2 separate regions of the Homo sapiens genome follow, and region 2 is linked to region 1. The links come from fine-mapping of genetic effects on plasma protein levels. A gene starts in region 1. The other region holds a variant in brackets. All regions are shown on one strand. Distances are between the middles of the regions.

Region 1 (2,909 bases):
CCTGTATCTACAAAAAGTACAAAAATTAGCAGGGCGTAGTGGCATGCGACTGTGGTCCCAGCTACTTGGGAAGCTGAGGCAGGAGGATTGCTTGAGTCCAAGAGAAGTGAGCTGAAATCGTATCATTGCACTCCAGCCTGGTGACAGAGAGAGACCCTGTCTCAAAAAAGAAAGAAAGAGAGAAAGAGAGAAAGAAAAGAAAGAGAGAAAGGAAGAAAGAAAGAGAAAAAAGAAAAGGAAGGAAAGCTGAGGCACAGAGCGCTGAGTTGCCCATGGTCACACAGTTAGCAGGTGGCACAGATCCTGTCTAGTTTCAGAATCCTTGTCCTTGAACATGCTTTGCTCTCTCTCTGAGATTCTTTCAGCTCTTGAGCTTTAGAAATGGAAGTTTCCAGCAAGTTCTTTGCAGCAGCTGATGTTCCCTATTAAATGACAGTGGGGAGTCTTAGAAGTATTCGGGAGGCCTACGTTCACCGCTAACATCCTTGTTGTGAAGGCCTGCTGACGTTTGCCATTCCAGGACCAAGTGGACAATGAGTTAAGCTAGGCCAGGAGGGGGTTCAGCTCCCCATAACAAGGCAGGGGTGGCCCTTTGTGTCCGGCAGCATGGTAGCCCCCCCGCAGGAGCTCCGGCTACCCTTTGTGTTTGACCTTGTGGAAGGGCATGGGAAATGCTGGCCTGTCAGCAGGCATAAACTCAAAAGTTTCTCCTTCAGCTAATTTCAGGGACTGTCTAGCCAAGTGAATACACAGGATTAGGTAATCCATGGATCCTGCGAGGGCAATTGGCTGATTGGCTTAGGTGTGCCCAAGAGCCCTGCAGGTGTCAGAACAAATCCATGTAGAAATGCAGACGCCCACACCAGCTTGAATGGCATAAAGGCACACATTGGAATGTGGCTCATGAGCTGGGACCCAGGATCAACCACTGGTTTAAGGAGAGGACCGTGAAATGTCCAAACATGGAGGCCAGGCCACCTCCCTGGATGCCTGGCTGAGGGCAGCCACATGTCTGCAGCGGTGGCTTGTGTCCATGACTGAGATGGGCAGGGTTTGCAGGCAGTGGTGATCCCATCAGCAGTCCCCAGATCTCTAATGTCAGGAGAAAGAGCATGGGAAGTCCGACGTCCAGGAAAGTCTTTCATCCTGCTTCTCCCTGCCTTGGGCCTTTTCCCATTTCCGCGGTCACCTGTCCACAATGGCTGCACTGTGTGGCTCTTCAGGTGTTCCTAAGACACTGAACAACCAAACCCATGGACTGACCGGATATGAAATTGACGTGGGAGGAGATCAGGCAGGTGCTGGGGCTGCCTGGCGCAATGCACGGAGCCAGAAGTGCTGTTATGGGGAGGGTGTTATTGTTTTAGTGGGTGCAGCAAAGGGTGGTTTAGCCAGCTGGGCAGATCAATTGTAAATTGTTATTTACAGTTTCTGAGCCTTTAAAAGAAGAGCTTCGCCGGAATCAGTCTTCATTACAGATGTGCAGCACCATGAGGGCCCTGGTGCTTCTGCTGTCCCTGTTCCTGCTGGGTGGCCAGGCCCAGCATGTGTCTGACTGGACCTACTCAGGTGAGCCCCTAGCTTCTGCATGCTCCCCCAGTTACCCTCACACCCTTACAACAGGACAAGTGCCCTTCTTCTTCTTCTTTTTTTTTTTTTTAGACAAAGTCTTGCTCTGTTGCCCAGGCTTGAGTACAGTAGTGTGATGTTGGCTCACTGCAACCTCCGCCTCCCGGGTTCAAGTGATTCTGCTGCCTTAGCCTCCCGAGTACCTGGGATTACAGGTGCCTGCCACCATGCCTGGCTAATTTTTGTATTTTTAGTAGAGACAGGGTTTCACCATGTTGTCCAGGCTGGTCTCGAACTCCTGACCTTAGGTGATCTGCCCATCTCCCAAAGTGCTGGGATTACAGGCATGAGCCATTGCGCCCGGCCAAGAGTCCTCCTTTAGGGCATTTCACAGGATGGCCAGGCAGCCCACTTGCCATATGTTGGGGGTCTGCTCATTGTGGCTTCAGATGTTACCTTTTCAGTGTCTCAGAAGGTATGGAGAATAAGCTGAACTTAAACTTCAAATAAGGAAAAGAAGGAAATAGCTTTCCCCTTCACAAACTCCTGATTTACTTACAGGCTTTTTGCTTTAAATTTTTTTCCATCCACAGTGTTGGCTGGTTCAAAAGCACACTCACTGCTTCTATTTGTAAAACCATTTGCTTTGTTGGTCCGTGTAAGTGGAAAACAAAGTTCTTAGAAAAGACTCTCGGTAACCTCACGGAAGGTGCTGTGGGGTTTGCGAGACCTTCTTTCTTGGAAATTTCATGGTAGGCAGTTTACCCAGAACATCTTGACATAAGGACCCAGTTCCCTTTGATCTGTGGGCTGCCAAAATGAGAGGTGTTTTTTTTTTTGTTTTTTTTTTTTTTTTGAGACAGAGTCTTGCTCTGTTGCCCAGGCTGGAGTTCAGTGGTGCCATCTCGGCTTACTGCAACCTCTGCCTCCTGGTTTCAAGCGATTCTCATGTCTTAGCCTCCCAAGTAGCTGGGATTACAGGCACTCATCACCATGCCTGGCTAACTTTTGTATTTTTAGTGGAGATGGGGTTTTACCACGTTGGCCAGGCTGTTCTCAAACTTCTGACCTCAAGTGATCCGCCCACCTTAGCCTCCCAAAGTGCTGGGATTACAGGCGTGAGCCACCGCGCCAGGCCCCAAACCAGACTTTTAAAATGTGAAATGTAAAATCCTGGCATTCAACATGGGTTCTGGTCCACATGTGAGCCAAAGCTAGAAGGCCGTGTCTGTGGACTTTGTGGACACTAAACAGCCCTTTCCAGGGGCAGTGAGGAGAGCTTCTTCCCGCATCCCCCTTCTTTCCATACGGGACCATGGATTGGGGCCCATGAGGAGGCT
Region 2 (2,909 bases), 23 kb after region 1:
TCCCATTCGATTGCCTGGTTAACAAGGGTTCTCCCCAGCATCTCAACGAACGTCAACAACTAAGGGGTCCTACAGTATTTTCTGTGTGCAGGGCTACTGTGCCTCGTCTAGCCAACCTTTTTTTTTTTTTTTTTTTTGTGAGACAGAGTCTCGCTCTGTCACCTGGGCTGGAGTGCAGTGGCACGATCTCAGCTCACTGCAACCTCCGCCTCCCAGGTTCAAGCAATTCTCCTGCCTCAGCCTCCCGAGTAGCTGGGACTCCAGGAGTGTGCCACCACGCCCGGCTAGTTTTTATTTTTAGTAGGGACAGGGTTTTATTATGTTGCCCAGGCAGGTCTCAAACTCCCAGGTTCAAGCAGTCTGCCTGTCTCAGCCTCCCAAAGTGCTGGGATTACAGGTGTGAGCCACTGCACCCGGCCATCTCCTTTTCTTAAACTTTTCATTTCCTTAGAAAAAGGTGGAAAAGACCCCTGCTCAAGGACACTCACACTCCAAAATGTTGCCAGTCAGGCTAGAAGTGCCCCCAGACACCTGACAAAAGCAAATGGTAAATTATCTCTGGGAAAATGACCTTAAATCCAGACCTAGAAGAATTTTCACAAATAAAGTTACTTGAAATTAGCTCAATTAAGAAAAAAAAATACAAAACATATGAGAAAAAAAGACATTATAGATGAGAACCAGCAGAATCAGACCTACAAAGACTTCAGTTAGTGGAATTATCAGACAATTAATATGACATAAGAATGTTTAACATGTATAAAGAAATAAAAGGTTTAAATATGAGAAAAGAGCAAAAAAGTATAAAAATGGACATCCAGACTTGGGACAAAAACTCAAATAGAATTTCTAGAAATGGAAAAATAGTATCAAAAATTAATAATCCAGGCCAGTTGTGGTGTCTCATGCCTGTAATCCCAGCACTTTGGGAGGCCAAAGTGGGTGGATCACCTGAGGTCAGGAGTTTGAGATCAGCCTGGCCAACATGGTGGAACCCCGTCTCTACTAAAAGTACAAAAAATTAGCCAGTCGTGGTGGTGGGGCGCTTGTAATCCCAGCTACCCCAGAGGCTGAGGTGGAAGAATCACTTGAACCTGGGACGTGGAGGTTGCAGTGAGCCAAGATTGCACTACTGCACTCCAGCCTGGGCAACAGAGCAAAACCCTGTCTCAAAAAAAAAAAAAGTTTGCTGGGCACGGTGGCTCAAGCCTGTAATCCCAGCACTTTGGGACGCCAAAGCGGGTGGATCACGAGGTCAGGGGTTCGAGACCAGCCTGGCCAACATGGTGAAACCCTGTCTCTACTAAAGATACAAAAAATTAGCCGGGCATAGTGGTGTGAACCTATAATCCCAGCCACTCAGGAGGCTGAGGCAGGAGAATCGCTTGAACCCAGGAGGCGGATGTTGCAGTGAGCTGAGATCATGCCATTGCACTCCAGCCTGGGCAACAGGGCAAGACTCCATCTCAAAAAAACAAAAACAAAAACCCAATGAATGGGTTTAACGCATGTTAGATACAGTTTGAGAGAGAATTAGTAAATTGGAGACAGCCAATAACATTATCTAGAATGCAGCACAGAGAAAAGGAGATGGAACTATGAAAAGAAGTGAAGAGACATTGTGTACTGGAAAGGTCTAGTAAATGTCTAATCAAAATCCTAGAAGGAGAAGAGAGGCAGAGTAGGGAAGAGGCATGATTTGACAAAATATTGGCTGACAATTTTCAGGAAGAGATACCAAGTCATATATTCAAGAATGCCAATTAGTTTCTCTCTCTGTCTCTCTCTCTCTCTGGGTGTGTAGATAT[G/A]TGTGTGTGTGTATACACAACATCCTGCAGTAAACGCATCACATTGAAATCATCAAAGACAAAGAAACTATTTAAAAATTAGCCAGAAAGAAAAGACAGATTATCATGAAAAGAGTATTATTAGACAGAGAGTTGATTTAACAGCCACAGTGAAAGTCAGAAGGGAGTGGAAACATAATTTCAAAGTGCCGAGGGAAAAAAAATAGCCAATATAGAATTGTATGTGCAGCAAAGATGCCTTTCAAGGATATAGACAAAATACAGACATTTTCAGGTCAGGTGAGGTGGTTCATACCTGTAATTCCAGCACTATGGGAGGCTGAGTGGGCGAATGGCCTGAGGAGTTTGAGACCAGCCTGGCCCACATGGTGAAACCCCATCTCTACTAAAAATATAAAAATTATCTGGGTGTGTGGGTGGGTGCCTGTAGTCCCAGCTAGTCAGGAGGCTGAGGCAGGAGAGAATAACTTGAACCCGGGAGGTGGAGGTTGCAGTGAGCCGCAATCGCGTCACTGCACTCCAGCCTGGCGACAGAGCGAGACTCTGGTCTCAAAAAAAAAAAAAAAAAAAAAAGAGAAAAACCTGACATTTTCAGAAAAACAAAAATTGAGTTTGCCACTTGATATATTTCTGCTTCTTCTTTCTCTCCTTTCTACTACTGGACAAATACTCATATAAAAAGCTGAAAAGAGAGCTTGTGTGCAGATACCTGTTGGAAGAATGCACGGATAGATTAGTTCTGGAATAATGCCTGAGACACAGCACCCAGAACCTCCCCTGGACTTGAGATCTTCTTACAGTCACTTCATCAGGGTTATATAAATCCAAACTCTAGCCCAGTTGTTAATTCTTTTTTATTTTTTATTTTTTTTGAGACAGAGTTTCTCTCTGTCTCCCAGGCTGGAGTGCGGTTGCGTGATACTGGCTTACTGCAGCCTCTGCCTCCCAGGTTCAAGCGATTCTCCTGCCTCAGCCTCCTGAGTAGCTGGGATTACAGGTGCACACAACCATGATCAGCTAATTTTTAGTAGAGAAGAGGTTTCACCATGTTGGCCAGGCTGGTCTCCAACTCCTGAGCTCAAGTGATCTGCCCGCCCCAGC

The links. PIP is the chance, under the fine-mapping model, that this variant and not a neighbour inherited with it causes the effect. Protein levels are from antibody-based Olink assays in UK Biobank. Linkage for the fine-mapping came from a reference panel and not from the study's own genotypes, which makes the PIPs less certain.
Region 2: its variant is fine-mapped to the plasma level of the CA6 protein (UK Biobank, PIP 0.93).

The regions. Positions count from the first base shown.
Region 1 is chr1:8,944,397-8,947,305 of GRCh38, forward strand. It overlaps CA6 (carbonic anhydrase 6), which reads left to right and starts at 1,472. Exons shown (of 8, transcript NM_001215.4): 1 at 1,472-1,569. The coding sequence starts at 1,491.
Region 2 is chr1:8,967,847-8,970,755 of GRCh38, forward strand. The region is part of intron 6 of CA6 (carbonic anhydrase 6); the gene reads left to right. Among named protein-coding and RNA genes, the nearest start is that of CA6, 23 kb to the left of the region's middle. The variant G/A (reference allele first, on the strand shown) is at 1,809.